Linked DNA regions of Homo sapiens. The protein of the gene in region 2 interacts with the protein of the main gene of each other region in a pairwise test. Each region holds a gene or a part of one and is shown on either strand. Other genes may lie near its edges.

Evidence for each region. The genes of interacting proteins can lie anywhere in the genome.
Region 1: the proteins of ZHX1-C8orf76 (region 2) and ANXA1 interact in binary tests that used the Homo sapiens proteins (3 or more experiments, as listed by UniProt).

Annotation. Positions count from the first base shown.
Region 1 is NC_000009.12:73,147,987-73,154,882, reverse strand, and holds the start of ANXA1 (annexin A1), read right to left. Parts: upstream 3,019-6,896; 5' UTR 2,959-3,018; exon of another isoform or gene 560-2,958; coding exon of another isoform or gene 541-559; intron 1-540. UniProt on the Homo sapiens protein: Plays important roles in the innate immune response as effector of glucocorticoid-mediated responses and regulator of the inflammatory process. Has anti-inflammatory activity.
Region 2 is NC_000008.11:123,271,277-123,278,728, forward strand, and holds the start of ZHX1-C8orf76 (zinc fingers and homeoboxes protein 1), read right to left. Parts: upstream 3,011-7,452; 5' UTR 2,941-3,010; exon of another isoform or gene 2,846-2,940; intron 1-2,845.

The DNA.
Region 1 (6,896 bases), on a different chromosome or scaffold from region 2:
TTGCTTGGAATAATAGCCTTTAATCATTATCCTCAGTTTCTATCTGGGAAAACTGAGTGCTATTTTCAAGCAGTCTTCCTGCTAGTAGTGGCAAGAATGGAGACATAAATCCATCCCTTTTGATTCCAAAGTGTTATATATTTTGGCTGTGCATGGTGGCTCACACCTGCAATCCCAGCAATTTAGGAGGCCAAGGTGGGCAGATTACTTGAGGCCAGGAGTTCAAGACCAGCCTGGCCAGCATGGCGAAACCCCGTCTCTACCAAAAGTACAAAAATCAGCCAGGCATGGTGGTGTGCACCTGTAGTCCCATCTACTCAGAAGGCTGAGGCAGGAGAATCACTTGAACCCAGGAAGAGGCGGAGGCTGCAGTGAGCCGAGATTGTACCACTACACTCCATCCTGGGCGACATAACAAGACTCTGTCGGGAAGAAAGAAAGAAAAAGAAAAGAAAAGAAAAAAGAAAAGAAAGAGAAGGGAGGGAGGGAATTAGTGACCAAAAAGAAAATGACATGATCAGTGTTCTTTTAATCACTCACACCTGAGAATCAAATTCATTAACAGTCAACTTGCGCAGACCGTAGCAGGTTTCACCCCAGCCTTAGGGAGTTTATTTTTAAATGCACGGCCTTGTGCATAGTTTTTCCTCGAATATGTATTTCACAAGTCCTTCCCACACCTTCCCTGGTGAGAGAAAGCAATTAAGACTACACAATGGCATGACTTACAGAAAGCAATTTATGAAAGGTAGCCTCACTAATGTTTTGCTTCCAGGCTTTTCGATAGGGTGTTCTTCTTGCCTGGAATGCTTGTTCCTCCTCCACATTCACTTCCCTTTGCCTAACTAATTGCTACTTCTAAGTGACTCATCAGCATTGATCTCATCACGTTCTTCAGAAACCCTTCATTAGTTCCTCAGCACTGGATTCGGTGACCTTCCATGCTCTCCCAAAGCATCCTGACTTCACCCCTACACCAGCCCCACCTTTCTGTATTATCACTTTCCATTGGCTTGTTTATATTCCCCAGGAGCAGGCCATGAGGCCCGTGCTAACATACAAATAATAATATTCATTATGTATGTACTTCCAATCCCTAGCAAAATGCCTGGAATTTAGGATGTTAATAAGTATTATTGAATGAATATCATGTATCATTGCTAATATTTTAAAAAACATATCTACACTAATTTAATGAACATTTTCTACCCACAACTATAGGATATAAAATACAAATTGAAGTATACTGGTTCTTGATTATCTGGCGATCTGACCTCAAGAAAAACATTTAGCTTCTCCAGAGGGTCTTCGTTTATAAAATAAGAATGTTGAAGTAATTATCATCTAAGATCCATTTACAGCTCTGAAGTGCCAATCTTAAATATTACTTCAAGTAGATGAAGATGAAGAAAATTAGCATAATGAAGGAAGGCATTATATAAATTGGATTGTTCTGAGCTTCCTGATGAAATTCTGTCCAATTTTAAAGGAAAAGGAAATAGTTGACTTCAAAAAACTGTTTATAGTTTATCATTGAAAAATAATAGGTCTGCTGGTTTACCTCTGATTTGAAATGTCGTAAATTAATAGGTCTAGAGAGAGCTAACGTCATATTCAGAAATCAACCTTTGCAGACCTTCTGGTTGAAAAAGTATTTAATAAGCATGAAACTCTGGCTGGTTCCTTAATAATATTATTATTAACTATTTTGTCAACATCTGTTAAATGTTGGCTATGTGCTGGATGTGGTTGAGCCTGGAGCTAGGGTGTTACTGTCACTTTTGGGGAAGAGGCCATTTCAGAATTATGAAACCAACATTTTACCACATTTGAGTCATTTGCAATGTGCATTCTCTTACAGCTACCAAAATACTCCTGTGGAAAGAGGGCAACATTGCTTTCTCAAAGTTTTTACAATCTTTTAGATATAACCAAGGCAAGAAAAATTCCATCCTTGTTAATTAGCTAGCAGTGAACATAAGAAATCAGAACATTTAATAAATATTTAAAATGAACGAACAGAAAAATTCTTGAAGGAACATGTTTAAGAAAAAAATAGCCAGATACATGATTTGTAATCTCACTTTTACAAATATATCCAACACTAGTAAATACTCTTCTTTAGTTTTGCTTTGTGCTTTTCTAAGGAGTTTTATGGCCATTAGCTCATGCAACAATCAAGTGGAATAGCTGTTGGAGGGCCTCACTGACATTCCCCTAGGATAATGTATCTGACACTACCCAGAAAGTATTTCCCTTCTTTTTAGGTTTTCCAGCCAGCACTTGAAAAGACTGTATATGACACAGAGCCTACAAGAAAAGGAATGTGGCCACACCCTCTTTAAATGAAAAAAGTAATAAGCGGACCTTCTTATTTTAAATAGCATAAGCAAATATAACATATATTTTTAAATGTTTATTACAAAGAGCATGATTAGCACTTTGAGGTCTGAATCTATCTTGTTTTCCTTACAAAAGAAGAAAATAAATTATGAAAGTCCTACTATTTTGAAACAGTTCCCTGCAGCCCACTCCTATCACTTTTGTTCTTGCCCCCAAAAAGCAGCCCCCATCACGATTTCTCTGTAAAACACACAGCTCTTGGGAAGAAATATTTCAAGGGGAAGGAAAGGAAAAACACATTCTTTTAAGGCTACCAGAGGGAAAGCACATTCTTCCCTTCTTTCTCATGGTAACTTACCAAGAGTACAATGAGCCAGTATTAAGCAAACTTATCTTATTTTTACTTGTATTTGTTAACTAAGTAGAACAAAAATATTGTAATTTGTGATTCCTAAAATATAAATATCCAATGTAATTCTACAGAAAGATTTATGAATGACTTATCATGTTAAATGCAACTAACCATAAATCCTGTAGAAGCAGTAACATTTAACATAGTGATGAGAAAAGTTTTCAAAACAACCAAAACTAACTAAAAGGAAAACCAAGACTTACCTTTATCTCTACCTTCTTGCAAAGAACTAAAGAGAAATTCTTCTCTGAAGATTTCACACTGGCAGTGGAGACTTGGGCTTCTGATTTTATAGGATTTTAAAGGAAGCCACACCTAGCAACCAGAAGTTAGTAATTGGCTGCCTTCTGTTTGAAGTACATGGCTCAGCTATGTCCAAAAACAAAGTGAAACAAGTCTTGCAAAACTACTCACTAAACCAATTCAACTGGCATTACAAAGGAAAAGAAATGGAAGGGCTGATTTTTCCTCCCTCTTTATTTTGCACTTTTATTTCCAGATGGGATATTTATTTTGCACTTTTATTTTCAGAGTATACATCTGCCCCAATCCTAATACCAGTGATTGGCACACTTTTGTAGTTAAATAGGTTGTAGACTAAAAAGTATGTTACCTTCAAAACTAAACAAACCAACAAACAAAATATTACATTTGAATTCCACCTCCATCACTTATTATTCTGTGACTTTAGGGACATACTTAATTTTTCTGAACCTGTTTTTACTTTTGTTTTGTTGTCTTTTTCCCCCGCTTTTTGTGGAGAATGGGGTCTCGTTATATTGCCCAGGCAGGTCTCAAACTCCTGGGCTCAGGCTATCCTCCTGCCTCTGTCTCCCTAAGAGTTGGAATCACAGGCGTGAGCCACCATGCCTAGCTGTTTTTACTTTTGTATATAGGAGCATTATCTAAGTTGTCTACCCACTAGAATTCTTGTGACAATGGAGAAATAACATATATTTGTAAATTTTAACATTACACAGTGCCGAATAATTTTCTATTTATATTTTTCTTGCCTTAAAAAATAAACGACTTTTGTTCCTAGATATAGCTTGTTGTTATAAATAAGAAATATAGAAGTAATAAAGTTCCAGATTGGCTCAAAATTTTGAACAAAGGTAATGCCAAAAATTTGATCATTATGACATTCAATAAAAGCATTGACATCAGAAGGCCTATCTACATTAATTCTTTTAAATAGAGTCAGTTACATAGAACTATATATATAAACTGTAATATAGATCAGTTATATATACATTTTGATACACATCTTTGACATTGTAGACTAGTTGAACACCAAAACAAGGAACTAGACCTATAAAATGAAAGGATTAATGGAGCAGCAACTATTACAGAACACATTCCATAAGAAATTTCCCACCCAATGGAGGAAAATTGGTTCTGGTAACTTCCATAGTGGTTCATTTTCATTCTTCTTTAAACCCTACAAAGTATTATATGATGTTTCCATTAAAGTGCACAGGTGTAAAATCTCACAGCATTATGGCTCAATTTATGCTGCATTTAGTGGTTTGTTCTTTTTCCTCTTTTCCTCATAGATATTTCACATAAAAAACATGAAGTTTAGGAAGTTAATGAAAATACTTTCTAAAGATTGGCAGTATTTTATAATACATTCTAAGTGCTCGATGCCAATATCAATGAAGTCAACATATCCTGAAGTAGGATGATCATCTAATCTAAATATTTAAGAAAATGTCAATATATGTTTTTACTATCATATGTGTAAGTTGAAAATTAATTAGTTACCTGCTAACAAGTTAAGTTAATTGATATTATTGCAAATTGATCTTGACAGATGTAGACTAACTTTCTAATACCATATTTATGTCATCAGGTGAGAAGGAATAAGATGATTATACAAAATCTGGTTTTCTTTTTTTCTTTAATTTGCGTTTGTATTCCTAACTCTGGTAATGGAACTATTGGAACATTCCTGCACAGTGATGCTCTTGTGAAATGAAGAAAAAATTCCACTTACTTTTTATAAAATATAACAACCTAGAAAACATGTATAGTCTCATTTTGCTTTGTTGCTGCTATTACCAGTGCCATAAACTGAATGGAATTATTTTATATGTTTGGATTTGTAATACATAGGCAAACCTAAAATAGCAACAATAAATATGATAATTGTAGCAGAATTAAGAAAAAAAAAGTGAAAAGAATGTTTTTCCAAAATTAACTTCCAGCTGTAACACTAAAGGCAAGTGAAACTCCCAAACATAACACAAAAAGAAAGCCACTAATCATGTAGGTATATTGCTGTGAATAATCTGTCAGAATCTTTTTCTCCGCATAATAATAATGTCGAGTAGATTTATGGAAATAAAAGAACAAGTAAAATATGTTATCATTAACAGTGAGGGGATAATCATGGGTTAAATGCTTTCTGTGGGTGAAATGCCACATACTCCAGAGAAATGACTCACCACTCTTGCTGTTTCTAGAAGATGATGATTCATCGGCTCCACTTACTTTACAAACAGAGAAAATAAAGAAAGAGAAGGAAAGAAAAAAGACAGTTAAAATCAATCTCTATATGTTACGTTTTTCACAGCATGTTTATTTTCACTCATTTGGTTTAGAATCTGATAGTGAAGAGGAAACAAAACAAAACAAGGAGAGGAAATATGGAGTCTCTCACATACATCTCATTGTGCATAAGACTCTTGCAAAATATCTGATCTTAGTAAGCTGTCCCCTCATCCTTTACATTTAACTCTATCTAAGCATTACTTGTTATATGGAAGAAAGAGTATATTCTGAATGATCAAGAACAGCATTTCACAGATATTCCAAAATCTCCCCACAGCTTCCTCATACCCCCTATCCACAGCCAACAAAAATCATTATTTTAGTGTGTGTTTCTCATGTGTCCCCAGGTCAAAGCATTTTGAGGGCTAACATTCTAAATGTTTTCCCTTTGCCTCTAAACATGGCAAATAATTATCACACACACACTGAGTTATTGAGATTATTATTATTATTATTCCTCAGTTATTCACATGAATTAAAGACAGAATTTTTTTTCAAATTTTACTCTTTCAGGTTAATGAAGTAGTCATGTGGGTAGCTAGAGCCAAAGGGAGGTACCTTTGTTGGACTTCACTTAGGGAAAAAGATCTTACCTCCCTGCCTCTCTATATTTCCTTTTGTGGGTGGAAAATCTTAGAGAAGATAAAAACTCAAATTTGGTGGTGGCTTAGTATCTATTACTGTGTGACTTAGGAAAAGTCAGCGAATGACTTGGTGATTCAACTAGTATACTTCCAACATCAGGATCATGCTAGGATTAGTAATTTTGTATTGCACAAGTTATTTTGTTTAATCCCTGAGTATAGTATCCATATCCCTCTCTATATTATTCGAAAGTAAGAGAATAAGACCTTGTCACATTCGCTATAATAACAAATTTTACTTCAATAATTTTCAAGAAGTTTTGCAGAAGGAAAATGAAGATATGTGTTAAGGTCAAAAGGTCAAACTCTGCTTTCTAGGTTCCAGCTGTTTTAAAATAGTCTGGCAGTTTCTTACAAAGATAAACAGAGTCTTACAATGCAATCCAGCAATTGTGCTCCTAGATATTTACCCAAATGAGTTAGGAAACATGTTTACACAAAAACCTGCACATGTATGCTTATAGCAGTTTATTCATAATTACCAGAAATTGGAAGCAGCTGAGATATTTTTCAAGAGGTAAGTGAATACATGGACTATAGTACGTTTATGTAATGGACTATTACTCAATGATAAAAAGAAATGCTTTTAAACCAGGAAAAGAAATGAAGGAATCATAAATGAGTATCGCTAAGTAAAGGAAGACAGTATGAAAAGGCTATGTCTGTTTCATTCCAATGAGATGCATTCTGGAGAAGGCAAACTATAGAGAAAGTAAAAAGATCAATGGTTGCCAGGAGTTGGTGGCAGGGAGGAGTAATAAATAAGAGACTTTTAGGGAAGTGGGCTGGGCATGGTGGCTCACACCTGTAATCCCAGCACTTTGGGAGGCCGAGGCGGCGGATCATCAGGTCAGGAGTTCAAGACCAGCCTGACCAACATGATGAAACCCCATCTACTAAAATACAAAAAAAAATTAGCTGGGCGTGGTGGTGCACGCCTG
Region 2 (7,452 bases):
AAAAAATTTAGTCTTAACAGTAAATGTGCTTATCACAACATAAATAAATATTTATAATGATTTAAAAAATGTGTATTACTGGCTAGCACCATAAACAGTACAATAGATAATTCCAAAAATCTCTCTGAATAATTGCACTGACTATGATATTAGATTAAAAACTAGGTGCTGAACTTTCAACACTGTTTATTTAAGTAAAGTCTTTGGGCCCAAATCCACAATGCTGCAACACAAATAAAAGGGTTATTTCCTCAGCTACATTTGTGATCATTTTAATAATTTTAAAAGCATTTTCATTTAAGTATTAAGTTATAATTTACAGCAAACTAAGTCTCAAATATCACATTTTATGCTTAATTAGCATAAGAAATATAATACATCATAATATAACCTTTCCATCTTAATATAAAATATAATAATACAAAAGGGAGAAAAATCTTCAAAATGAACCACCTCTCCTATGCTATTAATTTCGCTAATAACTGTAAAACTTTGTCCCCAATTATTGAAAAAAAAAGAACTTACAATTATCATTAAAGGTGAAATAATTGCTACATCATGCATGAACTACCCCCCAAATCCGGTGAAATAATAAGCTTAGCTATAAAGGAAAGAAATCCACTAATGAGTGTTCACTAGCACAGGCACATTTATGTTTTCGGATTTAGCATATTTTCAAACCATCTGGCATTAATGCCTCTCTGGTTCACCCAGCCTAATCTGTTCAGAATTGAATATAAAACCAGAGCTACATGAACATTGAGGAAACCAAAGAACAGCACACGTGCATAAAATGTTCCAAATGTAAAGTTCTAAACTAGTTTCTATTTGAACTGTATCTTTAAAACATTTCCATTGAAGACGTTAAAGCTCTTTCGAAAATACAAGAATGGTTCAAGAAATCTCTATGAATCATCACTATCATCAGTTACCCAAGTATTACCCTTTCTCATTTTAATCCTGATTGTCAAATAAGGCGTCTGAAGAGGTACTTCAACAAAAAAGATTCATTGATAACTGAAATGCTATCATTTTATATCGAAAAGGTCCACGATTATACATTTTACTTTGTATAAAATTAGTCTGCTTAGCCTTAACATGCTTTGGGAAAGGAGAGAAAAGCTAAAAGGAAAAAAATATTCATGAAAGCCCTTTTTCTTTTATGTCCTGTTACCGCATTATTGTCATTGGCAGCACTCACATTTCTTTTGCTTAAAATCAGGAGTCAGAATTGCTACTTTAGAAATTAAAATAATCGATGGGTATACTAGGGCCAATTTCCCTGTTAAAACCAACTCCTGCTCACCTTCGCTCCCGACATAAAAACAAATGACTTTTTCAGAATAATTTTTCAGAAACGAAGATAATTAATGTAGCACCATATAACACAAATTAAAGCTTTCAGACAAAGACTGAGAAACAATGACCAACACCAGCAAATCTAAAGTGCTCTTATATATGTATACACACAACACACACACACACCCCAAACCAAATATTCACTGTTCCTGGGGGGAGACTGCTTCTTCCTCCCTAACCGTGAACCGCTGTATATTTTCCAATTTTGTGATTTTCCTTTTTCTGCTATCACATTAACCTCCAAGAGAACTGCTTAAGTTACATGGAATCCCAACCTAATCACATCACGACTTCTCTCTCAGCCTTTACATTTTTCTCTCAAATATTAGCTCTTCGCATTTTTTTTTTTTTCTAATAGCTGGGCTGAGTTGACAGAAAAGGGCTGTGGAATTCCTGCTCTGTCCGATATCTTCCCTGTATTCCTCTTTTCTCATCCCTAGTCTCTGTTCTAATTCCCCCGCCTGCTGTCTCTCATTGACGCCTTCCCAGCTGCTGGATCCTTCACTAACCTAAGCTAAGGATATCAAATGGAATCTTTTCCTTCTCAGGGGCTATGCTCTTTCCTTACAGTTACCCACGGAGGAGAGAGGACAGGAAAGGTACTAAAACAAAGAATTGCCAAGTCCCTTTACCTCCAACTTTGGTGTAAATATATAAGGAAAGGGGATCTGCCAGGGCTCTTCTTTCCTGCCCTTAGACCTTGTTCCTCTCACACCTCTCCTTCCCAGCCTTTTATACCCCTTGAGGTATTAGTAGATTGTTCACTGTGGGCCCTAAGGCTTGGAGGATTCCCATGGGTCAGCCCCCACACCCCCACGCCCCTACCATCCTCTTTAATTAACTTCTCCCTAAATCCCAGGGCTTCGTCACAATCGTAATATGGTTCTTAAGGACTCAACTCCCAGTCTTTCCCAAAGTTGGGACATGGCCTGGCCCCGAAACGGGTGCGCATAGCCTTCCTTGAACTGGAGGTAAAGACTTCTCCTGAAGGGTTTGCTGGGGCTCCAACCTCAGTCAGTGCGCTCAGCTCCAGCAAGAGAATCTCTCCTTACTCTCAGGGAGACTGGGTCCCCCACGAGGCAGCCACACGCCCCCGGAGGACAGCGCTCCTGACCTCCTCTAGGACTCCCAACATTACTGGGGTGCTCCCTCCGGCGGCGCCCTCCGCTGGGAATACGCAGTCTTCACTCCTCTCAACAATCCTAAGTTGCTGGGTCCTCACCAAGGCAGGGGGCTGAGATGTTCCCTCCAGAGAGCCCCCCGCCCCCAAGCTCTTTCGGTGGCGGAGACACCCAAAAAGAGCGAGGGAGGCTGTGGGTCTGTCTGTCCCTCTGCGGCGACTACCCAGCCGCGAGGCAGGCCCCGTCCCTCCCCCTCGGACGCCCCACGCCGGGTCCACCCCGCCACCCGCCGCCGCGAGCGGGCTCAGCCCCAGGGGTCTCTGCTGTGAGGCTGCCCTCCTCCCGCCAGGCCCCGCGCTACTCGCCTTTCCCGTGCCGGCCGCGGACTCTGCGCTCCAGTTCCCACCCGCAGCCCAGAGTCTCCGGGCCCGCTGGTCGCGGAGCCGGCTCGCGCCACTACCTGCAGGGGCCGCCGCGCCTCTCAGCGCCACGCCGCCGCCATCTTGCATTTCAAACCGGCTGCACTTTTCAGGGAGTCAACTCTGACCTGTGAACCCTAAACCCGGAACCGCTCGGCGGGCCCGCAAAGGGGCCTCAGCAGCTCGGTGGCCCCGCGGAGTGTGGGGACTCAGGGTGGGGGTGCGAGGAGAGGCGCGCGCCCCAGCGGCCGTCCGGGGGCGGAGGGGGAAGGGAGAGAGCCGGCCAAGGCGGGGCCCTCCCGCGCGCGCGTCCTCCGCGCGCCCCCACCCCGTGCGGCGCCGAGCTCTCCACGCCCAGACCCTGCTACTCCACTGGGGTCCGACCCCGGCCCCTAGTCCGGGGATTGGCGCACCGCGGGAGGTAGGGAGGCGCCCCGCCCCCCTGTCAACAGAAGCCCCGCCCCAGACTGCGGAAGCTCCGCCCCCTGTCAGGAGACGCCCCGCCTTCCCAGGGCTCGAAATGGCCCCGCCCTTTGCCTGCGACCGCTCCGCCCGCTGTGGACTGAAGCCTGGTCTTCTCTCGGGTCAGCACAGAAGGCAGCCCCGCCTTCCTTGCGCTCCGCCTTCCTAATGTCACTGCTGGATCGTGAGAGGTAAGCATGCTGGCTTCTACTGAAACGCCCCTTGTCATCACACGCCCATCCCCTGGGGCGACACGACCCAGGCCCCGCCCCTCGGGGGGCTGCTGCGAGTCCGGCCGGGAGCCCAGCGCCCTGACAGAAGTCGCCGCGCCCCTTGTCAGCGGCAGCTCCACCTCTCCTCGCTTCGGACCCCGCTCCTCCGCGGGCCGCAGCTCCACCCGCTGACACCGAAAGTTCAGTTCAGCTGCACTCAGAACCGCCGGGCAAGGCGGAGCCGCCCTCTGCCCCTCAGCCGCCCTCCTCCCTGCGAACCGCCACTCGCTCTTCCAGAGGCTTCTGTCCGAGTCGAGGGCTTCACATCCCGTCGGCTTTCAGGGAACCAGCCCCGCAGCGGGGCCAGCGAGGGCCAGGGGTTTCGGGAACACTGCCCGGCGTCTCCGCCCCTCCCTACTCACTTTCCCTTTCCCCCGCACCGCGGTCAGAACGTGGAGGAACAGAACCAAAGCGGAGAGCGGCGACTCACCCTCCAGCTGCTCCACACGCCGGGCCTTGGACGCTCGAGCGCTCCTGGGCCCCTTGACGTTCACTCCCCACCCCCATCCCAGTCGCGGACCCTTTGTGCAGAGCTCCGCTGAGCCACAGTAATCCTAAAAGCACAGCAGAGCTCCGCTGAGCCACATTAATCCTAAAAGATGCAATTGCTTCAAGTGGAAGTCTGATTTTTTTTTTTTTTTTGAGACGGAGTCTCGCGTTGTCGCTTAGGCTGAAGTGAAATGGCGCGATCTCTGCTCACTGCAACCTCTGCCTCCCGGGTTCAAGCGATTCTCCTGCCTCAGCCTCCCGAGTAGTTGGGATTACAGGGGCCCGTCACCTAACGCCGGGGTAATTTTTGTATTTTTGGTAGAGACAGGGTTTCGCCATGTTGGCCAGGCTGGTCTTGAACCCCTGAACTCAAGTGATCCGCCAGCCTCGGCCTCCCAAAGTATTGGGATTACAGGAGTGAGCCACCGCGCCTGGCCGTGGAATCTGATCGTTGAAATCAGTGTTCTACAATATTCTTTTTATTTGTAGGTTTCATCCTGGAATCCTAAAACTTGTGTAGGATAAGGCTTAATTTTATAAGCAAAGGTATTCAACCCTGCCACATTCAATGCCCTGTATTTACAACAAAAAATATAACACTGCTTTACTCTTCTGGAGTTAAATTCCTAATGCAAACTATCTCTACAAATAATTTCAAGAAACCAATGTAATGTTCTAATAAAGGTGAAAAAGGAGAAAGTAGTTCATAATAAAATACTGTATGTACTAATATCAAGAAAAATTTTAAAATAACAGAGTTTTCACAATGTAAATACTCTGCCACCAATAGAATGCAAAACAAAAACTGTCCCGGCAAAATTTCAGTATGCCCCTGAGGGGCAGTACTGCCCTCGCTGGGAACCTCTTTAGACCGAGGAAGAGGTCTGGAAATGCTTCAAATAGAGAAATTCATTCTTTTGTCTACACAGTTAATGACAAGTTTTCTTTTGTTGTTGTTGTTGTTGTTGTTTTTGAGACGGAGTCTCGCTCTGTTGCCCAGGCTGGAGTGAAATGGTGCGATTTCGGCTCACTGCAACCTCTGCCTCCTGGGTTCAAGTCATTCTTCTGCCTCAGCCTCTTGAGTAGGTGGGATTACAGGCGCGTGCCACCACACCCGGCTAATTTTTGTATTTTTAGTACAAACGGGGTTTCACCATGTTGGTCAGGCTGGTTGCGAACTCCTAACCTCGTGATCCGCCCTCCTTGGCCTCCCAAAGTTCTGGCATTACAGGTGTGAGCCACCACACCCGGCCGATGACTAGGTTTTGTGTGTGCCAGTATATGCCAGGCACTGTGGGAGATGTACAGCTGAGTTAGTCAACTTTCCTGTCTTCCAGGAACTTACAATCAAGTAGCCAAGCAAAAAACAGGAGCATAAAGATGTGTCAAGTGAAAGATGAGAAGAGACCCCTTTAGGGATGTGGAGCTGTTGACTGTAACTTCACATTTTACCCCCACTTCCTCCCTCACTTTATTCTTCCTTCTCCTCTTCTACTTTAGCACTAGTTTATAGAGTCACCTCCTCCTCCCTATAAGCTGTCTCCCTGGTTCACTGCCCAATGCCAGCCATCCAGAATTCTCCCAGTTTAGGGTCATGCCCACAGGGCAATTCTGTCCAAGAAAACACAGTGCTGAGAACAATGTCCTTAGCTGAATTGCTGCCAATTACTTGGTATCCTTCTACAAAGCAAGACTGTTATCATCACCACTCAAAAAAAAAAACTGGTTGCAGACTTAAGCAATATGAATATATGTTTAGCATAGCAGATTGTGCCAGCCCACATAAATCTGCTTAGAGATCAGGCTCACAGAGTAACTTGTTTTTATTAAAATAAATTCATTTATAAAAATTGTAAATATGATGGATTTTAACAGCTGCGTGGCTCCAGGAGTTTTTTTTTTTAACCATGGATTGGCACAATTAGAAGTCTAGATTTTTTTTATGCATATGTTTTGCAGTTTGTCATACTCAAACTGGTATGGCAAAACTTCAGTACTCTTAGAGATAGAAGTTGTTCAGCAGGTTTTAAAAAGCACAGCACTTTTGCTATTCAGAGCCTCTTCCACCTTTGGAACAGTGAAAAAAAAATATTGGTAGGAAATGAAGAGCTTTGGATAAAAAGTTCTAAGCTCTGGTGTCATCTGAAGAGGAATAGGCTTCCAACAGCACTTTTTGTAGTAGTTCCCTTCTGTTATTATTTTTCCTTTTTCCACTTTTTGTGAAAAAGTCTTTTTAAAAACATGATACCATGAAATAGACCAGCCAAAAAGACATCAAACTAAGACACTTTAAACTTTTGACTACAGTTAGGTGAACTTAAGAATTTAGCCCTAGTGAAGTGCTCCCACTATTTTCTGTAATGGCTACATTAGAAGGTGAACAAAAATGTTCCTACTAAAACTAGTTCAGGCTGAATAAACTTTCTAAGACAGTTTAGGGGTCAAGCCATTTCCTGTTTCTCTTAGTGCTTGCTCTGTGAAAATAATAATGTTATTGGTAATAACAACAGTAAAAACAAGTCAATATTCTTGGTACTTGTAAAATTCCTTCCCACTCCACTCTTTCCCTCTACTTCTAGCATAGGACCATATATAGTACTACAGGACTATAGATGCAAAACAAGAAAAACAGAGAGGAAAACTGATTTTCCAGTATTCATTCAAAGAGTAACACATTGATACACTTTATATTTTAATCATAGTGTCATCTGGGTTGATTCATTCATTGGTGTGTAACTCTATATCCACCAAAACTTAGTGTCTTGGCCAGGCAGGGTGCCTCACGCCTGTAATCCCAGCACTTTGGGAGGCTGAGGCAGGTGGATCACAAGGTCAGGAGATCGAGACCATCCTGGCCAACATGGTGAAACCCTGTCTGTACTAAAAATACAAAAATTAGCCGAGCGTGGTGGCATGTGCCTATAGTCCCAGCTACTCAGGAGGCTGAGGCAGGAGAATCGCTTGAACCTGGGAGGCAGAGGCCGCAGTGAGCCAAGAGCGCACCACTGCACTCCAGCCTGGGTGACAGAGCAAGACTCTGTCTCAAACAAACAAACAACCAAAAAAACCTTAGTGGCTGTATCAGCATGACTTCTAAGGAAAAAGTGGCAGTATCTATTTTTTAACATAAAAATGTAGCATACAAATAACCCTAGGGAACACTCCTCCACTAGAAAGCAATGCTAGAGTGAGAAAATGCAATAATTCACTGTGTTTCAGTCTTTGCAGAGAAGTCTAAGTAGCAGTCCTTAAACTTTAATGTTCATGAAAATTATGGAGAACTTTCTTTAAAAATAGATTCTCAGACCCCACTCCTGGAAGAGTCTAATT